2 linked regions of the Homo sapiens genome follow. The protein of the gene in region 2 purifies or fractionates together with the protein of the main gene of each other region. This does not show direct contact. Each region holds a gene or a part of one and is shown on either strand. Other genes may lie near its edges.

Region 1 (3,809 bases), on a different chromosome or scaffold from region 2:
TTGTAAGGCTGAGGCAGGAGAATCACTTGAACCCGAGAGACGGAGGTTGCAGTGAGCTGAGATGGCACCACGGCACTCCAGCCTGCGACAGTGAGACTCTGTCTCAAAAATAAATAAAGAAATAAAGAAATAATAAATAAATAAATAAAAAATAGTACATCTACATGATGAAATTCAATATCGGTATTTAAAGGAATAAGGTTGAACTATCATACTTTATCAATTCTGAAATACCACTAAATCTAAGATAAGCCATCTATTTAGTAGCAATTTTTTAGCAGGAAGAAAGTAAACATAAAGCTTTTATTAATAATAGCATACATTTATTCATTCAATTGTATACCATTTTCGTCTGTCACAATAAAGTTTGAGTCTCAGCCTTATTCACATTCAGAATCTAGGATCCTTCTGAATTACTTCGGTTAGTTAATGCAACATCATGATAACAGGCTGCTTTTCATAATGCTAGTTAATTATCTTAACCTATATTGTCTTTATGATTGTGTGTATAATTTTAAGGTATATTGAAGAATACTGGGGTTTTGCTTGCCTTTCATTTTTGCTTACTTAGTTTTTTTTTCTTCTTCTTAATTGAATTACCTATTGCTGGAAATTAAACAGCTTCTTCTGAAGATAACTCCAAAAGTTTTGGCAGACTTTTGAGTCTGTCTTACCTTTGAAAATTCTGTGATCTTGCTTGAATTTAATAATTACTTATGCCTTTAATTGCATTGTCTATTGAATGACAGTTTGAGTGCACAATACTATGTCACAATGGAATCTTTCAGAACATTTTGTGGACCAGGCATGGTATCATCCCAGTATTTTGGGAGGCTGAGGCAGGAGGAACACTTGAATTCAGGAGTTTGAGACCAGCCTGGGCAACCTAGCAAGATCTCCATCTGTATTTACAAAAATAATAATAGCTGGGCGTGGTAGCTCATGCTTGTAATCCCAGCACTTTGGGAGGCTGAGGTGTGTGGATCACATGAGGTCAGGAGTTCAAGACCAACCTGGCCAACGTGGCAAACCCCTGTCTCTACTAAAAATACAAAAATTAGCCAGGTGTGGTGGTGGGTACCTGTAGTCCCAGCTACTCCGGAGGCTGAGGCATGAGAATCACTTGAACTTGGAAAGCAGAGGTTGCAGTGAGCCAGAATACGACACTGCACTCCAGCCTGAGTGAGACAGTCTCACAAAAAAAAAAAAGTAATAATGATAAAAGAAAAAAAGAGGCCGTGCGCAGTGGTTCATGCCTATATAATCCCAGCACTTCGGGAGGCCGAGGCAGGTGGATCACCTGAGGTTAGGAGTTCAAGACCACCCTGGCCAACATGGTGAAACCCCATCTCTACTAAAAATACAAAAATTAGCCACACATGGTGGCACATGCCTGTAATTCCAGCTACTTGGGAGGCTGAGGCAGGAGAATTGCTTGAACCCGGGAGGCAGAGGTTGCAGTCAGCTGAGATCACGCCATTGCACTCCAACCTGGGCAACAAGAGAGAAACTCCTTCTCAAAAAAACAAAAACAAAACAGAAAAAAAGAAAAAACATTTTGAGCATCATATATGGTGCTGCCAATGAAAATATTACAATTGTCCGGGTATGGTGGCTCACACCTGTAATCGCAGCACTTTGAGAGGCCAAGGCGGGTGGATCACCCGAGGTCAGGCATTCGAGACCAGCCTAGGCAACATGGAGAAACCCCGTCTCTACTAAAAATACAAAAAATTAGCCGGGTGTGGTGGTGGGCTCCTGTAATCCCAGCTACTTGGGAGGCTGAGGCAGAAGAATTGCTTGAACCCGGGAGGCAGAGGTTGCAGTGAGCCGAGATGGCACCATTGCACTCCAGCCTGGGCAACAGAGGGAGACTCTGTCTCAAAAAAAAAAAAAGAAAATAATACAATTGAGGTAACAGAGATTTCGACTTTTATGTATGGTTAAGTTAGGCATGTGCAATGACTGCTACTCTAGAACTTCTCTGCTTTGGAGGGGAGATTGGACCTTGATTTATTTGGAAGGAACTCTCATCCATTGTTTTCATTATCATACTCGGCCACCTGTGAAGTGTGTGTTGGGTGAGTATTCTCTCTTTGGAAGGTACACATCTTTCTCAGCTAGCTTATTGCTCATAGAAGTTGGGGGCCCAAGGGTTGATCTTAAGATATACTCAATTTATTTATTTATTTATTTTTTCTGGGACAGAGTTTTGCTCTGATGCCCGGGCTGGAGTGTAGTGGCACAATCACAGCTCACTGCAGCCTCGACCTCCTGGGCTCAATTGATCCACCCACCTCAGTCTCTCCAGTAGCTGGGACTGCAGGTGCACACCAACATAATTGGCTGATTTTTTCTATTTTTTGTAGAGTTAGGGTCTCACTTTGTTTCCCAGGCTAGTCTCAAACACCTGGGCTCAAGAGATCCGCCCACCTCAGCCTCCAAAAGTTTTGGAATTACAGGCATGAGCCACTGCACCCGGCCCTAACTTTTAGAAATATTAAAATGTAGAAAAGCATGCTTAGAATCAAACAAACATGATACTGGCCGGGCATGGTGGCTCACACCTGTAATCCCAGCACTTTGGGAGGCTAAGGTGGGAGGATCGCTTGAGGCCAGGAGTTTGAGACCAGCCTCGTCAACATAGCGAGACCCTCATCTCTATTCAAAAAGAAAAGAGAGAATAGAAGATAAAATATGGCTGGGCGCAGTGGCTCACACCTGTAATCCCAGCACTTTGGGAGGCCAAGGTGGGCGGTCACCTGAGGTCGGGAGTTCGAGACCAGCCTGACCAACATGGAGAAACTCCGTCTCTACTAAAAATAGAAAATTAACCGGGTGTGGTGGCACATGGCCTGTAATCCCAGCTGCTTGGGAGGCTGAGGCAGGAGAATTGCTTGAACCCGGGAGGTGGAGGTTGCGGTGAGCCAAGATCGCGCCATTGCACTCCAGCCTGGGCAACGAGCGAAACTCCATCTATAAATAAATAAATAAATAAATAAAAGAAACATGACACCTAACTGTGGAAAGATGTTCACGGTATTATGTTATTCTTTTGCTAAGAAATTGGGCCCTGATTAGTGACAGAGGCAAGATTCATGGGTCCTATTATCCACATGCCCAATAATCTCTTAATCAGGTCCAGATATGGTTCCTCTTGGTCCAGGGACCTGTGAAGTAATGTGTCCTGTGTGCTGCGTGTGTGCGCACTCTCTCTCTCTCTGTCACTCACTGTGTCTCCTCTCTATCTCCCTTCCTTTTCTTTTCCCCTTACTCACTCACCGCAGTACACAAGGGCCACAGTAAGCGCTCTTCCTAGAAAAAGAGAATAATGGGAGATAAGCAGCAAATGCTGATCTATAATCTGAAATCTCCTAGGCAGATTCTGTGTAAGCAACCGGGCCTGGAGGTAGGGGAGATTGGACCCTGATTTATTTGGAAGGAACTCTCCCATCCATTGTTTTAATGATCATCCTTGACCACCTGTGAAGTGTGTGTTGTACCTTCCCTTTGGAACGTACAAATCTTTTTCAACTAGCTTCTTGCTCATAGAAGTCGGGGACCCAAGGGTTTTAAATTTTGAATAGACAAGAAGATTTTTTTAGTATGAACTTGAGATGATTTAAGAAAAAAAAATTTCATTTTGTTTTTTGAGATGGAGTCTCACCCTGTCACCCAGGCTAGAGTGCAGTGGCACAATCTCCGCTCACTGCAACCTCCGCCTCCCAGGTTCAAGCAATTCTTCTGCCTCAGCCTCCTGAGTAGCTGGGACTACAGGCACATGCCACCACGCCCAGCTAATTTTTGTA
Region 2 (4,558 bases):
TGCAACCTCCGCCTCCCGGGTTCAAGCAGTTCTCTGCCTCAGCCTCCCAAGTAGCTGGGATTACAAGCACCCACCACCACGCCCAGCTAATTTTTATATTTTTAGGACAGACAGGGTTTCACCATCTTGGCCAGGCTGGTCTTGAACTCCTGACCTGGTGATCCACCCACCTTGGCCTCCCAAAGTGCTGGGATTACAGGCGTGAGCTACCGCGCCCGGCCAACCTGATGATTTTCTAAAAACCTTTTTGGACTGGGCGCAGTGGCTTATGCCTCTAATCCCAGCACTTTGGGAGGCTGAGGCAGGTGGATCACTTGAGGTCAGGAGTTTGAGACCAGCCTGGCCAACATGGCAAAATCCCATCTCTACTAAAAATACAAAAATTAGGAGTAGTGGCGCACACCTGTAATCCCAGCTGCTTGGGAGGCTGAAGCAGGAGAATCGCTTGAACTCAGGAGGTGGAGGTTGCAGTGAGCTGAGATGACACCACTGCACTCCAGCCTGGGCAACAGAGTGAGACTCTGTCTCAAAACAAACAAACAAAAAGCCTTTTCAATAAACCACAAGTGACTTTGGTTCACAGTAAATACACTTCTGCCCGAACTAAGATAAAATGTAAGCATTGCTTTTCAAACCTTAGAAATGCAAGAATCAGCTGGGTGCGTTGGCTCATTCCTATAATCCCCACACTTTGGCAGGCCAAGTTGGGAGGACTGCTTGAGTCTCGTTCGAGACCAGCCTGACCATCATGGTGAAACCCCGTCTCTTACTAAAAATAAAAAATTAGTTGGGCGCGGTGGCAGGCGCCTGTAATCCCAGCTATTCGGGAGGCTGAGGCAAGAGAATTGCTTGAACCCGCGAGGCAGAGGGTGCAGTGAGCTGAGATCGCGCCACTGCACTCCAGCCTGGGTGACAGGGACTCCGTGTCAAATAAATGAATAAATACTAAAGAAAAATTAAAAGCTATTATTATTATTATTTTTAGAGGCAGGGTCTCTTTCTGTCTCCCAGGCTGGAGTGCAGTGGCACGGTCACAGATAACTGCAGCCTCGACCTCTTGGGCTCAAGGGATACTCCTGCCTCAGTCTCCCAAAGTTCGGGATTACAGACCTGAGCCACCGCGCCTGGCCGGATGCAGAGCGCCTGGCCGGATGCAGAGGCTTTTGAGTAGGCCCGGTGGACAGGGATTTGCTTTAGACCTGGGCCCCTGTTCCCCCTCTGCCTCTTACCACTGGTGTGACCTGGGGACCGACAGTTTACACTCTCCTTTAGCCGGGGGTTTCCTGTCTCTGAAATGGAGCTAATTTCTCCCCTCTCTACAGGAAGAGGTAGATAGTGCTGGAAGGCGTGCTAGGTACACCGCAAAGACTCCACAGCAAATCCTGCACACAAAATCGCGAATGCTGCAGCCGAGACCCCACGCAAGCAAGCACCGCAGGAGACGTGGGCTGACAGCTGCGCCCCACGTGACCTCCCACCCGCGCCAGTCCGTCCCCTCGGTATCAGGGCGTGGCCTCGCGGGGCGGCCGTACCTGGATTGGCCGGGAGGCGGGACCGGTGGTGCGCGCGCGAAAGGAGAGGGGCTTGGGGGCGTGGCCCAGGGGGCCGGAGACGGCTGCGATTGGCAGTGGGGCGCGCCGGGGGCGTGACCGCGGCATTGGGTCCCGGGTGGGGCCGAGGCAGCGGGAGTCGCGGTTGCTCAGCGTGCACCTGAGACCCGACGCCCGGGGTCCTCGAAGACGCGTCCGCCGCCGTGCCCGTCGCCATGAACCGCTTCAGGGTGTCCAAGTTCCGGCACACCGAGGCTCGGCCGCCCCGCCGCGAGGTGAGTCCGGCCCGAGGACCGGGCGCTGTCGCCTCGGGCCCCGTCCGGCTGCCCCTCCCCCTGCCCGGACCCCACAGGGGTGCCCTCCAGGGCCGTCTGGAACCCCGAGACCTCCATCCCCGGGGAACCCCCCTTCAGGCCAGGGCCCCGGCGTCCGGGCCGTTTCGTCGCCGCCGGAGGGCAGAGTCCGGCACTCCCGTGACTCGCTCTGGCGCTCGGTGACCCTGGCGGTCTGCCCGCCTCGCCCACCTCGCCCCGGGACCCCCGAGGCGGCGCAGCCCTCCTAGCCGGGGCCCAGGCCTGCGAGGCCGCCTGCCTTCCCAGCTTCCGGTCGGCCTCGCCGGGAGCCGGGGCTCGGGGCGCTGCCGGCGCCTGGCTCCTCCTCCCTGCCGCCCCGGGTCGCCCCTGCCCCTGGCTGGGCTGTGGGGAGACGCCCCTCTCTCCTCTGGCCCCGGCGAGCCCAAGTGTGTCAGTGGTGGGGAGGGAGCCCCTCGGCCGCACGCGCCCCTCCCTCGGGTTTCCGCCGGTGCTTCCTCCTCTCGCCGCTGGCGCAAGCTCTTTCTTTATCTCGGTGATGCTGCCACGGCTGGGTGGGGCCTGGGGAAGCCTGAGCAGGTGGAGCCCCAAAGAATTGCTGAGCCAGGTGCCGGGAGACCCTTCGGACCCCCGAAACGGCAGGAGGACTGATGAGGGGTGCGCCTTGGAAACGATGTCAGCTCTGCTCTTCCGCTTTCCGTGTTATTTGTAAGGCCTGGGAGTGTCCTCCGATAACTGGGCCTAGGAGTTGACCTCAAGTGACCCCATCAGGGTCCCAGAGCAAGTCAGGGCAGTCTGGGTAGAGGTTCCGTTTTTGTAGTGTGGACTATATTTCCTCTGCTTCCACTTTATGCTGTGCTAAGCTGCTGGAGACATCCCGGTGAACACAACGGCATTTTCCTTCCCCTGTGGCACTTGTAGCCTCATGAGGGAGACAGCAAGCAGACAAACAAGAGCATTGGAGGTTTTCATAACGACATTGAAGAACACACATGAGGGACTGGGATGGAGAATGGAGGGGGCCAGTCTCAGTAGCGTGGTCAGGAAAGGCTGCCTGGAGTAGATGGCATTTTAGCTGAGGCCAGAAGGGTGAGAATTGAGAAAGAGCCTGGTGGAGAAATGGAAAGTGAGCATGAGTGGATGGAGGGGATGGCCGGAGCAGTATGGTGACAGATGAGTCCAGAGTGGTCCTGCAGAACCCAAGGGCCACCGGAAGAAGTTGGGTTTTATTCTGATTGCAGTGCAGAGCCATTGAAAAGTTAGGGGGAGGGGCTGGATACCATGACTCACGGTAATCCCAGTACTTTGGGTGGACTGCTTTGAGCTCAGGAGTTCGAGACCAGCCTGGGCAACATTGCGAAACCCCTCTGAACAACAAGTTAAAGAAAAAAAAATTAGCCAGGTGTGGTGACTCACTCCCGTGGTCCCAGCTACTTGGGAGGCTGAGGTTGGAGGATCTCTTGAGCCGAGGAAGTGGAGGTTGCAGTGAGCCGAGATTGTGCCACTACACACCAGCCTGGGCAATAGAGTGAGACACTGTCTCAAAAAAAGAAAAAAACAAACAAGAAAAGTTAGGAGGAGGTACCTAGGTTTGCATCAAGACAGCCGGTGGCTCTGAGTGCAGTTAAGTACTGCTTGGAGGGGTCTGGAGAATACTTGAGGGGCCCTAATTCTTGCTCCTGGGTGGGCCTTAGTCCAGCAACATAAACAGATAGGCATGGAACTACAGACTGTAGGGAGAGCTTAAAACAGTTTATGTTAGGGAGGCGGGAGAACAGGTGATCTGTTCTTTTCAGAGATATTTGCAGTCACTGTGTTTATACAGTAAACATGAATCAGGAGGGAGAAATAATAGGGTGGGACTGATGCTGTAACCATGGCAGGTGAACACTGATATAGAAACTTCAGGTGGTGGAGGTGGTTTCCGGGGTGCTATGGGTGGGTGGAGTGGGAAACATGGGTGTCCTGTCATCGAGGGCAGGAAGGAGTGCTGAGCGGTGCTTTGACAACAGAGAAAATGTGTGGACCTTGCAGATCTTAGTTTCAGAAACGTGCTCCTCTGCCTCCCCTTGGGTGGGGGTGTTTCTTTTACTGACTTATGAGACTTTGTGGAAAGGTGTGTCCTGATGAGGCCAGGCCTTGGTGGTTCCCCTCTCTGAGCTTGGGTGTTTTTCTCCGGGTACTTGGAGGAGGCCTGGCCACATTTTGCATTTTCTTTTTTTTTTTTTTTTTGAGATGGAGTCTCGCTCTGTTGCCCAGGCAGGAGTGCAGTGGCATGATCTCGGCTCACTGCAACTTCCGCCTCCCAGGTTCAAGTGATTCTCCTCCCTCAGCCTCCTGAGTAGCTGGAATTGTATGTAGGTGCCCGCCACCATGCCTGGATAATTTTTGTATTTTTAGTAGAGATAAGGTTTCACCATGTTGGCCAGGCTGGTTTCGAACTTCTGACCTCAGGATGATCTGTCTGCCTCAGCCTCCCAAAGTGCTGGGATTACAGGCATGAACCACCGCACCTGGCCCACATTTTACATTTCCTAAGGGACTTCGTGAGTGGGGACAGAGTTTGATTTGAAGTAACACAACACGGCTGGGGGCGGAGGCTCATGCCTGTAATCCCAGCACTTTGGGAGACCAAGGCAGGCAGATCACTTGAGGCCAGGAGTTCGAGACCAGCCTGGCCAACATGGTGAAACCCCA

Evidence for each region.
Region 1: the proteins of CORO7 (region 2) and LATS1 purify together in Homo sapiens (affinity purification with western blotting; one study listed by BioGRID). This does not show direct contact.

What each region holds. Positions count from the first base shown.
Region 1 is NC_000006.12:149,711,387-149,715,195, reverse strand, and holds part of LATS1 (serine/threonine-protein kinase LATS1), read left to right. Parts: intron 1-3,809. UniProt on the Homo sapiens protein: Negative regulator of YAP1 in the Hippo signaling pathway that plays a pivotal role in organ size control and tumor suppression by restricting proliferation and promoting apoptosis.
Region 2 is NC_000016.10:4,413,726-4,418,283, reverse strand, and holds the start of CORO7 (coronin-7), read left to right. Parts: upstream 1-1,687; 5' UTR 1,688-1,765; coding exon 1,766-1,825; intron 1,826-2,386; exon of another isoform or gene 2,387-2,569; intron 2,570-4,558. Other genes in the region: CORO7-PAM16 protein, read left to right, coding at 1,766-1,825. UniProt on the Homo sapiens protein: F-actin regulator involved in anterograde Golgi to endosome transport: upon ubiquitination via 'Lys-33'-linked ubiquitin chains by the BCR(KLHL20) E3 ubiquitin ligase complex, interacts with EPS15 and localizes to the trans-Golgi network, where it promotes actin polymerization, thereby facilitating post-Golgi trafficking.